Regions from separate parts of the Homo sapiens genome. Here region 2 is linked to region 1. A link means that fine-mapping ties the variant in region 1 to the expression of a gene that starts in the linked region. Tissue or cell type: cerebellar hemisphere. Region 1 holds a variant in brackets; the other region holds the start of a gene. All regions are shown on one strand. Distances are from middle to middle.

Region 1 (2,714 bases):
ATCCCAAAGAAACCATTAGTAGGTGGAGGTTGGGAGGGTTGGTCTGTGCAGTTAGCTTAGCCTGGGGTGAGTCCCCTGAGCAGATATTCAACTTCTGCACCAGGGTGCAAAGACAGACTGGCCACAGGGCTTGATGAGGCCTGGTTTCAAATTCCAGCATGGCTGTTTACTAGCTGTGCAACCTTGGGCAAAGTCTCTCTCATTTAGACAATCAGGATGAGTTCTAACCACTGAGCCATGGTAAGAACTGAATAAGGTGGAATAAATGAACTTTCTAAACTAGAGATGTGAAATATTGCTGCACTGCCCAAAGATGAAAAATCACTTCATCTCAAGATTCAGAGGGGAAATAAACTTCTGCCTGATCATGGTGATCACTGGGGGTCAAGATATCTGCTGTCCCAGTGAGGCTGGGGCAGTGGGATAGGCATTTATAGCCTCCCAAGGAATGACCTCAAGTCCTTCGTGGCAGGCTGCCTGCTGCTGGTCATAGTTCCCAGTGCCAGCCCTCTGACCTTTGGTGGACTTGGAGGCAGTGGAGAGTTAGTGGCAAGATAAGGGTCCCAGCAGAGTAAAGGCCAGAACAGAGGAAAGGGTGCCCAGACCAGCCATGGGCTGTTGGCTTTGCAAGGCTAGTGGCTCCAGTGGCACCTACTGAAAAGACTCAGTGACAGGTTGGGAGCAGTGGAAGCAATGGGAACCTTCCAGTGACCCAGAGAGGCGGTGATGGGGCATGATGGCCTCACAGCCCCTCCAGATTCCATGAGAAGAGGCTACCGGAGAAGAGCAGAGAGGGTGGTCTGGCAGAGACAGAAGGGTTGGGAGGCAAGAGTCCAGCATGAAGGGGAAGGGTCTTCTCCTCAGTGCCTCATGAGACCTAGGAGTGGGGATGCTTCTGACAAGCCCTGGATGTGGATGGAGAAAAGACATGGACGAAGGTTCAAAGAGACAGAGCCTCCTCTCAAGGCCAGGGATCAAGGCTCAGAGCTGCTCCTCTCTTAAGGCTATGGAGCCAACTCTGTCCCCATGAAGCTATGACTTCCCTGAGCTGGAAGGGATTTTCAGTGTCCCAGCTGATACAGAGACTTCTCTAAACACATCCCAGACCAGTCATTATCCAGCCTCTAATTGAACACCTCTGGTGACCAGAACTCCCTCCCTCCCTCCCAAGGCATCTGGCGATTAGGAAGCT[C/T]CCTCTTCTGGAGCTGGAATTACTCTTCTTGTAGAGTTTATTCATTGGCACTTGCTCTACTTCTAGTCATGCAAAAGAAAGTATGATCCTTCTTCCACACTAGAGCAGGGAGGCTCTGAGCAAATCTCCCGCTTCCTGGGGACCGGAAGTGCTCCCCCATCAGGAGGGCTACACTGGTCTTCTCTGCAAATTCAATGTAGCCTGGGTTACATGTTTCTTCCTACAATCTGAGTCTAGGATTGCCACTGTCCTGGGACCAGGCCCTCTAGCGTCAGGACACCCTAACCCCAAGCAGAGGATTCTCCGTACTCAGGACAGCAGACCCCATGCCCCTTCTGGATGAATCACTCTTCCAGTTTGCAGCAGAATGCAGACACCTGTCATGGTATGATGCCAGCCAAGGGCATCGCCGTGATGCCTGGAGACCCTCTGCTGCCCTGCAACTCCTTCACAGCTTGAAAGAGCTGGCCCTGCTGCTAATGAAAAACTGATCCCGCGTTGCACCAGGAGGCAGTAAATTTTATGAGTCTGTGTGAGTGGATAGAGGCAACTGCGGGGGCTGATTTCCACTTCCTGATACAATACAAATGTCTTAGTTTATGTAGAACTAATTAAAGATCTCTCAGGTCTTGCCATTTCATTCACCAGGCACCCATAAAGCCATGTGGTTATGGCAACCTCATGACTGCAGTGTGCGAGGAATGTGCTTTGGAGGGAGTGCTTCTTCCCTTCCCAACATTTCTGCCCCTCTCCTGCTGCTGCCTTTCCTTCCTGCCTCTTTTCTCCTCCTGGAAGGCTCTAGCAGCTTCCCAGCCAGGGTCTGGAGGGCAGGGTTGCACTCCTTACAGCAGGTGGTACCATGGGAAGGACCCAGACCTGGAACTGAACTCCTGCTCTGCCACTTATGAGCCAGGAGACTTTGGAGAGCTCCAGTGCTATGGTTTGAATGTGTCCCCCATAGCTCTTGTGTTGGAAACTTAATCCCCAATGCAACAGTGTTGAGAGGTGGGACCTTTAAGAGGTGATTAGATTATGATAGCTCTGCCCTCATGAATAAATTAATGTTGCTGTCGCGGGAGTGGGATAGTTATCACGGGTTAGTTATTGTGGGAGTGAATTAGTTATTGTAAGAGTGGGTTAGTTATTGTGGGAGTGGGTTAGTTATCATGGGTGTGGGTTTGTGATTGCAGGAGTGGGTTAGTTATCATGGGAGTGGTTTAGTTATTGTGAGAGTGGGTTAGTTATTGTGGGGGTGGGTTAGTCATCATGAGAGTGGGTTAGTTATTGTGGGAGTGGGTTAGTTATCATGGAAGTGGGTTAGTTATTGTGGGAGTGGGTTAGTTATCATGGAAGTGGGTTAGTTATTGTGGGAGTGGGTGTGTGATTGCGACAGTGGGTTTGTTATAACAGCAAGCCCAGCCTTCTCTTGCTCGTGTTCTCTCGCCCTCTCCTGCCCTTCCACTGTCCACCATGGGATGACACAAGAAGGTCCTCACCAGATATGGGCCCCTTGACTGTCGGC
Region 2 (2,500 bases), 110 kb after region 1:
ATCCCTGGTAGGGCAGCGTCTGTCCGTGTCCCCGACCCCTCCCGCAGGCAACTCGCGCGAACCTGGGGCTCGCAGAGAGCGAGCGCCCGCGGACACCGGCTGAACAGTCTGGAGGCTGCGCGAGGGGGCGCCGCGGGGAGGGATAAAAGCCAGCAACAAAGAGCACAGACCTCGTCCAGCAGTTGATTGACTCGTCCCAAAATAGCCGTCTCCATTTGCTGCTCCCCGCGCTCCGCTTCCAGGCGCAGCACCCGGGCCTGCAGCTCGGCCGTCCGAAAGTGGGCGAGCAGGCTGAGTGCCAGCGAGCAGAGGGCCAGCGTCAGCAGCCCGCACGACCCTGGACTCGGCAGCCGTGCGCCGCGCTCCGCCCGCGCCGCCACCAGAGCCACCGTCCCGGGCGCGCCCAACTCCCCAGGGCCGCGGGCACCGGTGGCTGCCGCTTTGTGGGTGCGCTCCGCTACCATCCTCTCGCGTCTTGAGAACCAATAAATAAATAAATAGAATAAATAAAGGCGACAGCCGCTGCCAAAAGGCTCTATCCAAACTGCGGGGCAGGGGGAAAGGGCTTGTATCGCTGGAAAACGTCCCTTTCCGCTGCTCCCGGCAAAGAGGACGGAAAAATTAGCAGTAGGAGAGGAAGTGCCGAAAAAGCACAACCAGCGGTAATTGGGGTACACCTAGGTGAGAAAAAAGTTATTTCGAAGAACGTTCCAAGTCCAGGAAAGTTAGGGGAATCTGACCGGCTCTCCTTCTCTCCGCCCAGTCTTTCCCTTCAAGTGTCTGCAGAGCAGTTGGTGCCGCGCTGTCAGTCCTTCTGGGCGCCTCGTGTCTCCCGGGCCAGTCAGTTTCAGTCCCCGGGCGAAGGGGCGCACACGGAGGGCCCCATGGGCAGAGGTGGGTCGTGGCGGCTGGCGAGGAGCGCAGGGGCCGATTCCGGCGCCTCTGTAACTTGACACACTCCCTGCGGCGGCACGGATCGGATGAGCAATCCGTGCTACTTCCCAAACTAATCTCTCCCTCCCCCCTCCCTCCTCCTCCTCCTCCTCGTCACTCCTCCTCCACCTCCCGCGGGGCCGACGGCTTGGATTTGTTTATTTATGCAAACTCGCCCAGGGTGGGGGGCGTGGTGAGCAGGTCCGGCGGCCCCAGCCCGCCGGCCCGGGAGCCCCTCTGCCGCGCTCCCCGTCCTCTTTGAAGTGACACTTGGGGTTATTTATAGGCAGGAAGGGGGTGTGGAGTGGAGCTGGCGCTGCACTTCCCTCTCTTTCTCCGGATTCACACCGAGGGCTCGTTTGGCCTTCCACGGAGGCGGTGAGGCGGGCACCACCTTCCATGGACGCGTTGGGGCAGGCACCACTCCACCTTTCCCAGCCCTTGAGACCCTCCAGGAACTCGACTGAGTTATTGTCAGGGCTTGTGGGTGGATCTCCACGTCCTGATCAGGACTACCTGATCCCTTCAGCCACCGCTCCTCTACTCCCAAGCCCCCAACCTCTTTCCCCTTCCTTCTCCCCCGACAACCGACTCCCCGGGGGCTCTGTACCTCCTGAGATCTGCAGCTCCTCCAGTGCCGGGCGGCCAACCACATCTTTACTCTGGGGTGAAAAGTCAGCCCTCCAGGGGGCAGCAGAGCTGGCAGCCCTTCCTCTCAGGACCAAGACCTGAGGTAGTATGAGACACTGAAAACGGAGGAGATCTTATTCCAGGTATCTGAGAGGTGGCTCATTGGGGCCGCCTGCCAGTCCTGACATCTCCCCTTCTTGCCTGCCATTAATCTGAGACCCATGCCATCTATCCCTGTGTGGTGAGACCAGCCTGCCTCAATCATCCCAGTCATCAAAGGTGAGCAATTCCTACACAAACTCAGGTTCCATCCCTGCGGGAGGCTTAGGGCTAACCAGGCTCTCTCCTGTTGTCATTTCCTATATTCCACTAGAGAAAAACTGGTGGCCTGAAGGGCATTTGGTAGTTTTCTCTCTTCTCTTGTCACCTCCTCCACCCCCCACATTAAGTAGCATTTGTATCCCAAGAGACTTTATCTCCTTGTGCCTGTTGACATTCCTGTGAATGAGGTGGTGGGACTGAGTTTTTGGGAGAAAGCCTGTCTTCCTGGAACAGCGGGCAGAGGAGAGTAGACTGGGTTTTCAAATATGCAGTGGAGGTGGGGGCAGCAGTGGTGCTGGGATTCCATTTCAAAATAACAAGGCATGCCAGTACAAACTTCCCATTTTCTATATTGACCTGATGGAACTTGATATATAATACAGTGTCACTGCACTTCTAATAAAGTGTGGCACACTTAATAGTGCATATTGGACTTGTAACATAGTAAGTACTGAGATCATATGTAATAAAGGTAACATTGACTGCTGGGCCAGTCAGCCACTATGGAGGACAACAGGAATAGAAGGCGATGCTGCTGAAAGAGCCCGTGGCCAGGAGCTCTGGGTTCCAGTTCCAGTTCTAGGATTCTCCTGATGGCTTCAGTGGCAAGGGCACT

What was found. PIP is the estimated chance that this variant, and not a neighbour inherited with it, causes the effect.
Region 2: it holds the start of COL13A1, and the variant in region 1 is fine-mapped to the expression of COL13A1 in cerebellar hemisphere (GTEx, PIP above 0.99).

Annotation. Positions count from the first base shown.
Region 1 is chr10:69,907,398-69,910,111 of GRCh38, reverse strand. All of the region lies in intron 17 of COL13A1 (collagen type XIII alpha 1 chain), which reads right to left. Among named protein-coding and RNA genes, the nearest start is that of LINC02636, 100 kb to the left of the region's middle. The variant C/T (reference allele first, on the strand shown) is at 1,193.
Region 2 is chr10:69,800,388-69,802,887 of GRCh38, reverse strand. COL13A1 (collagen type XIII alpha 1 chain) reads right to left here and starts at 982. Exons shown (of 41, transcript NM_001368882.1): 1 at 171-982. The coding sequence starts at 464. It overlaps LOC124902444 (a long non-coding RNA gene), which reads left to right and starts at 1,117. Exons shown (of 2, transcript XR_007062179.1): 1 at 1,117-1,842.